Linked DNA regions of Homo sapiens. The protein of the gene in region 1 purifies or fractionates together with the protein of each later gene. This does not show direct contact. Each region holds a gene or a part of one and is shown in the gene's direction. Other genes may lie near its edges.

Region 1 (3,500 bases):
CAGCCTTGGCGACAGAATGAGACACTGTTTCAAAAAAAAAAAAAAGAAGAAGAAGAAGAAGAAGAACAAAGAAAGAAAGAAAGGGAGTTAATGAGCAGTGGGGGCCTCAGCAAAGGCACTGGCATTCAGCCAGGTGGAGGGTCTCGGTGAGAGGACTGAGGGTGAGGGATGGAAGCCCGCCCGGTCTGAGGGATAGGGCCTAGTGAGAGATGCGGCACAGTGGGATGGGAGTCACCTGCAGACCTCAGCCTTGCTCCCTGACCCTCCAGCCCTGGCCTGCCCCCGGCCAGCCCAGAGCCTGGAGGAGAAGCCGGAACTCTTGCAGGATGGTGGTTTCCTGCCCCTGCCCAAAGTCCCGGTTCCCTTTTGATGAAATCCCCCAGGCGGCTGGGCCAGCTCAGCCCTCTCACCTCACCCTGGGAACTTCTCTTTCTTCTCAGCCCTGCCCAGTTCTGTACCCTCTGGTCCCACACCGTCACTGCCACGGAGGACCTTCCTCAAGGGAAAGGAGGGAAGTGAAAGTTCACTGGGCACTTACTGTATGTCTGATGCTTTCAGTGATGTGACCCCATTTGATGCTGAGAAGCAACCCCAGGAGGTGGACATTTGTATTCTTATTTTATAGGCAAAGATGCTGCCGCTCAGGGAGATGAACTGACTTGCCCAATGCCTTAAGCTAGTTGTCAGGCAGGCTAGAATTTGAGCCTAAATCTGCCTCTAGATCCCACAGATACTTGGTGAGGGTTGCGGGGGCAGGACATCCTGTGTCTACATCAAAGAACTGGCATAGCTTTGGGAAGTGTGGGCCTCGAAAAAGGATGGGTGGACCTGGGGTTCCTATGTCCAGCAGTAGGGGTGAGTGGGAGGCAGGGTCCCTCCCTGCTGGGTGACCAGCTGCCATATGACAGGGGTGGTGTGTTCGACCGGAAGTATGACATTCACTAGTTAGGAACAGCATGATCTCCTGCTCAGGCTTTGGAGAACACAGCAGTGGGGGAGGGAACAGAACTCTGGACTTGAATTAATAGTCCTGACTTTGAATCCCTTGTCTGGCTGTGTGATCCTGGGAAAGTAACTTCCCCCTATGCAAAAGAGAAGGTGGAGTGGTAAATGGTCCCTGGGGGCCATTCTGGTTTTGGTTATTGGTCACACTTGGCCACTGCACATCGGGCAAGAGCCACATGTCATGAAGCCCTCACAACAACTACTCAGAAGGTGCAGATGCAACAACTAAGGCTCAGAGGCTTATGTCAAAGATCCAAGGTCATAGAGCTACTGAAGAATGGAGCTGGGGAGGGCCACAGGGCAGATGTTGAAGTGAGGAGCACTGCGGTCCAGGGTTGGACCTCAGTTTGATACTTGTAACCTGATTTTGACCCTGATGGGGATCTCGGAGGCGACTCCTGTAAACCAGATGTTCAAGAGACATATTTATAAACAGAACCAAGTGCCCAGAATGATGCTGTGGCTACTCTCTGAGCTGCCCCCTTTCTGGTATTAGCAGGCAGCGAAGTTCAGTGCTGAGAAAAGAGAGACCTGGCTTCTTCAGATTCAGCGACTGCCTGAGAAAATCTGGGCAGATATGGCTCTCTCTCTCTCTCTCCTGCGCCCCTCCCTCCCCCCACCTGCGCCCTGCCTGCTGTATCAAGGATTTAGAGCATGAGGCACAGGGCTGAGAACACTAGGTGCTCCTTAAGAGACACACGTTATTGCAGGGGTGTCCAATCTTTTGGCTTCCCTGGGCCGCATTGGAAGAAGAAAAATTGTCTTGAGCCACACATAAAATACACTAACACTAATGATAGCTGATGAGCTTTAAAAAATTGCAAAAAAGGCCGGGTGCAGTGGCTCATGCCTGTAATCCCAGCACTTTGGGAGGCCGAGGCGGGCAGATCACGAGGTCAGGAGATCGAGACCATCCGGGCTAACACGGTGAAACCCCGTCTCTACTCAAAATACAAAAAATTAGCCAGGCGTGTTGGCAGCGCGCCTGTAGTCCCAGCTACTCAGGAGGCTGAGGCAGAAGAATCACTTGAACCCAGGAGGCGGAGGTTGCAGTGAGCCAAGATTGTGCCACTTTACTCCAGCCTGGGCAACAGAGTGAGACCCCGTCTCAAAAAAAATCACAAAAAAAATCTCATAATGTTTTCAGAAAGTTTACTAATATGTGTTGGGCCACATTCAAAGCTGTCCTGGGCTGCATATGGCCCATGGACCATGGGATGGACAAGCTTGCATTATTGCTTCTACTAGGATTACAGAATGGACTAGTGGTTACAGTGGTTTTTGGCAACAAGTTGATCAGCATTGCATTTTAGCATCCTTTACTCACAATGTAATCTTGGGCAAGTTACTTAACATCTCTGTGCCTCAGTTTCTTCATCTGTAAAATAAGGGTAGTCATAAACCCACCTCATAGGTTCACCAAATAAGACCATGACTGGGAGTTACTTGGCAAGATGCTAGTCACTGTGTAACTGTTTAATAAATTAGCTCATTTTTACTGCCACCTGGATTTCTAGGAAGTCAAATTACTCTCCAAAGAATTGGTGGCACATAGAGATCAGAGCAAGAGGAGGATGAAGAGTCCTAGGGCTATTTTCATGCAGATGTCTGAGCAGAGTGAACCCAATCTGCTCTCCCTCCGTCTTTTTCCCTCCTTGTCTCTTTAGCTCTCTCTCTCTCTTTCTCTTCATCTCTGCCTCTCTCTGTTTCTATCTCTTTCTGTCTCTTGATTACTCTTTCTCCTTAATTCTCATTTCTGCCTCTGTCTCTTTGTCTCTGTTTCTTTCTGGCAGTGTGTGCTGGAGCCAGCTACTTACTGGCTCAGGGGAGTTCATTCTGTGTGTCTCTTCCACCCCAGCTTTCAGGAAGTCACTTTGGTAGCTTTAAATCAGCCATTGTGGGAATATTTACACCATGGAAATCAGAAAATGTGACAAATCAGGGCTTTTTCTTTTCTTTTCTTTTCTTTTTTTGAGAGTCAGTTTACCAGCATACCACGCTGTGTTTCTCTGTCTCTGTCTCTTCCTTCTATCTCTCTGTCTTTCTGTCTCTCTGGCTCTTTCTCTTTATCTCCCTGTATCTCTCAAACTCTGCCTCTCTCTCTCTTTCTTTCTGCCTCTCCTTTTTCTGTCTTTCCCCATCTCTTTCTTTCCTCTGACAAAACAGCATGAACATGGCTACATGCAGTGTGGCCCCTCCCTGCCTTGGGCCATGCAGATGTCATACCCTGTGCCCTACATCCCCTGACGCCTCAGCATACTGGTCCCCAGAGAGCCAGGCCTGGCCAGGGCTTTGGTCTGCATCAAGTTTGGAAGTGATAAGACCCAAGAGCTGCCTACCTCTGCCTGCTGACGACACGGTCAGTCCTGCCAGGGCTCTTCCTGAGCCCACAGAGCTTCCTTCTCAGATGCTGATAGTCTCTCCCTTCCAGCCATACTGGGCATGCAGAATTCAGGGATCCCCTCCATCTGATATAGATATGTTGTGGCAATATA
Region 2 (3,500 bases), on another chromosome or scaffold:
TCCAGTGGATGGAGGTAGGGAGTGTGCATGTGGCAGGAGGCCACCACCCAGTGTCTCCTGGCTTGTGGGCCCCTGCCTAAGTGGGCTGGTAGCAGTGAGGATTCAGGGGAGCTCCTGGGGACTCTGGGCTCTGATGAGCACAGTCAGAGATTCTGCACACTCCTTCATCAGTTCTTTCTGCTCCCAGCATTTCGAGACATGGCCCTCCCACCTCCCCATTGTGGCTCACGCAGAGCAGCAAACCGTGGCTGCTGTCCTCATGGTGGCTCAGCTCACTCAGCGCTCAGTGCACATATGTCACGTGGCACGGAAGGAGGAGGTAAGAGTACACCTGAGATCCTGCTGTCCCTGTTGCTTTCCCAGTAACACCAAAGGTCAGGGTAGTCCTTAGGGGCAGGAGACAGCAGGAGGAGAGTCTGGAGACAGCAGGAGGAGGGTCTCGAGCCAGCACCCTTGCAGGTCTACATCATCATTTTTTGAGCAGGGATGTTGGCCATTGGGACTTTGTGTAGGGCAAGGCATATGGGTGGTGCCTCTTCTGGATCTTCCCATTGTTCCCCAGATCCTGCTAATTAAAGCTGCAAAGGCACGGGGCTTGCCAGTGACCTGCGAGGTGGCTCCCCACCACCTGTTCCTAAGCCATGATGACCTGGAGCGCCTGGGGCCTGGGAAGGGGGAGGTCCGGCCTGAGCTTGGCTCCCGCCAGGATGTGGAAGCCCTGTGGGAGAACATGGCTGTCATCGACTGCTTTGCCTCAGACCATGGTGAGAGAATCCAGCATGTACCTCCTCTGCCCAGTGGGGCTTGTGGGACAGCCCTAGCAAGAAAATGGGAAGCAGGCCAGGCCTCAGGACTCTACTAGGACAGGGTCTTGATCCGTATGGGACCCTAGCCTCTAGGGTACCTGGTCTGTGATAGGTGCCTGATAAATACTTGTTGAAAGAATGAATGAGCCAGTGAGTAGAACTGCAAGTGAAAGAATACATGGGTAAAAGTGTGGGCTCCAGAAGATGGCAGCAGTCCTGTTGCCCTTGTTTCTAGTTCCCAGAAAAAATGAGCATTGGGAGTGGTAGTGAGCATAAGGAGGTTGTTGGAAGTGCAGTCCTGGGGTGTGAGTGACTTCCTAGACATGGAGGTGATTGGTCCTGAGGGTAATGGCTTTCTTTCTCCCAGCTCCCCATACCTTGGAGGAGAAGTGTGGGTCCAGGCCCCCACCTGGGTTCCCAGGGTTAGAGACCATGCTGCCACTACTCCTGACGGCTGTAAGCGAGGGCCGGCTCAGCCTGGACGACCTGCTGCAGCGATTGCACCACAATCCTCGGCGCATCTTTCACCTGCCCCCGCAGGAGGACACCTATGTGGAGGTGTGGGGATGAGGCCCAGAGCAGGAGGGGGGCTCTCCAGCCCTAGGATATGTTCTCTGGGGATCCTTTCCCTAGCATAACCCATGTCCTCTGGGCAGGTGGATCTGGAGCATGAGTGGACAATTCCCAGCCACATGCCCTTCTCCAAGGCCCACTGGACACCTTTTGAAGGGCAGAAAGTGAAGGGCACCGTCCGCCGTGTGGTCCTGCGAGGGGAGGTTGCCTATATCGATGGGCAGGTACGCAAGTAGCCCCTGCCTGATCTCAGTAGTGCCCTCTTCTGCACCACGTTCATTTCTTCCCTTCCCAGCACATCTACACTGTCCCACTATGTGCACCACTGCCCTGGACCAGGGGTTGGGGGCACAGCTCCCCCAAGGTGCTTTTTGTCCTTGCTGACATCTACCCCTTTAGGACCTGAGTTCTCTCTGCTCCCTCCTGAGTGCCCTGCCTTCTGCCTGCAGGTTCTGGTACCCCCGGGCTATGGACAGGATGTACGGAAGTGGCCACAGGGGGCTGTTCCTCAGCTCCCACCCTCAGCCCCTGCCACTAGTGAGATGACCACGGTATCCACACTACTGGGCTAGGGGGCTGGGAGGTGTTAGTCTCAGGGCAGGATGAACAGCTTGAACATTTTCATTGGTGGTTCAGGAACAATTGGGGTTTTCTTGAGGGACTGAATTTGAAGTGGGGTTGGGTCAATTATTTTTTTAAAATGCTGGGCCAGGCCAGATGTGGTGGCTCACACTTGTAATCCCAGCACTTTGGGAGGCCAAGGCAGGCGGATCATCTGAGGTCAGGAGTTTAAGACCAGCCTAGCCAACATGGTGAAACCCCATCTCTACTAAAAATAAAAAAATTAGCCAGGCGTGGTGGTGCACATCTGTAATCCCAGCTACTTGGGAGGCTGAGGCAGGAGAATTGCTTGAACCCAGAAGGTCACGCCACTGCACTCCAGCCTGAGCGACAGAACGAGACTCCGTCTCAAAAGAAAAAAAAAAAAACAACTCTGGGCCAACGTTATCCCTCCAGACACCTGAAAGACCCCGCCGTGGCATCCCAGGGCTTCCTGATGGCCGCTTCCATCTGCCGCCCCGAATCCATCGAGCCTCCGACCCAGGTTTGCCAGGTAAGAGTGGGGTTCCTGTGACTCAGAGACTGTGTAGGGACAGGATCCACTTCTTCCCAGTGCCTCGCCTTTCTCTACTTACATGTCCTCCTCTCCATCCCTTTATCCTCGTCTGATCTGCCGTGCCATCCTTTGCCTAAACAAGTCTCCCCGGTGTGAGTAGACATCTCACAGCTTCTCACATGCCCTTTTTTGTTGTGGGCAGCTGTGTTCCTCCGCCCAGGAGCTGGGATCCCACGGGGCAGCAGAGCGTGGGGTAAATCCAGGTTGTTGGTTGGTGTGAGTCTGGCCGTTCCTCTTGCCTAGGATGCCTTTGCCAACTGGGAGAGCCCCGGGAGGGCACCACTGCTCCCATACAACACAGCCCCATGGGAAGCCACCTGTCTGTCCCCAGAGCTGCTGCAGTCCCCTGCCCTCCCCTAACCTGCTATATTACTGTGTTGTGAATTGGTTTAACATATACACTGTGATTCAGAGTTCCTGGGAATATGGGGTTTCTTTCCAAACCTCAGCCATAAATGTATATCTGTCCTCTTGTCCTGTTTGCAGCTGAGGAGCCAAAGGAGAAGTCCTCTCGGAAGGTAGCCGAGCCAGGTGAGACTCCACCCTGACACACACTCACCTCGGGGACCTCTGATCTGGCCTTGGTAGGAGGAACCCTCTGACCAGCCTTTTCTGCCCCATCCCTCACTGCAGAGCTGATGGGAACCCCTGATGGCACCTGCTACCCTCCACCACCAGTACCGAGACAGGCATCTCCCCAGAACCTGGGGACCCCTGGCTTGCTGCACCCCCAGACCTCACCCCTGCTGCACTCATTAGTGGGCCAACATATCCTGTCCGTCCAGCAGTTCACCAAGGATCAGGTGCCTGGGGCAGGGAGGATGGGACCACCCAGAGCTTTGAGGATTTGGAAAGCTGGGGCTAGGACCTTTCTAGCTAACTTGGGCTCTTTCTTAGATGTCTCACCTGTTCAATGTGGCACACACACTGCGTATGATGGTGCA

What was found.
Region 2: the proteins of FGR (region 1) and CAD purify together in Homo sapiens (affinity purification with mass spectrometry; one large-scale study listed by BioGRID and IntAct). This does not show direct contact.

What each region holds. Positions count from the first base shown.
Region 1 is NC_000001.11:27,628,686-27,632,185, reverse strand, and holds part of FGR (tyrosine-protein kinase Fgr), read left to right. Parts: intron 1-3,500. UniProt on the Homo sapiens protein: Non-receptor tyrosine-protein kinase that transmits signals from cell surface receptors devoid of kinase activity and contributes to the regulation of immune responses, including neutrophil, monocyte, macrophage and mast cell functions, cytoskeleton remodeling in response to extracellular stimuli, phagocytosis, cell adhesion and migration.
Region 2 is NC_000002.12:27,237,869-27,241,368, forward strand, and holds part of CAD (multifunctional protein CAD), read left to right. Parts: coding exon 1-14; intron 15-187; coding exon 188-319; intron 320-562; coding exon 563-764; intron 765-1,173; coding exon 1,174-1,364; intron 1,365-1,462; coding exon 1,463-1,603; intron 1,604-1,828; coding exon 1,829-1,930; intron 1,931-2,396; coding exon 2,397-2,493; intron 2,494-2,698; coding exon of another isoform or gene 2,699-2,749; intron 2,750-3,042; coding exon 3,043-3,087; intron 3,088-3,189; coding exon 3,190-3,359; intron 3,360-3,453; coding exon 3,454-3,500. UniProt on the Homo sapiens protein: Multifunctional protein that encodes the first 3 enzymatic activities of the de novo pyrimidine pathway: carbamoylphosphate synthetase (CPSase; EC 6.3.5.5), aspartate transcarbamylase (ATCase; EC 2.1.3.2) and dihydroorotase (DHOase; EC 3.5.2.3).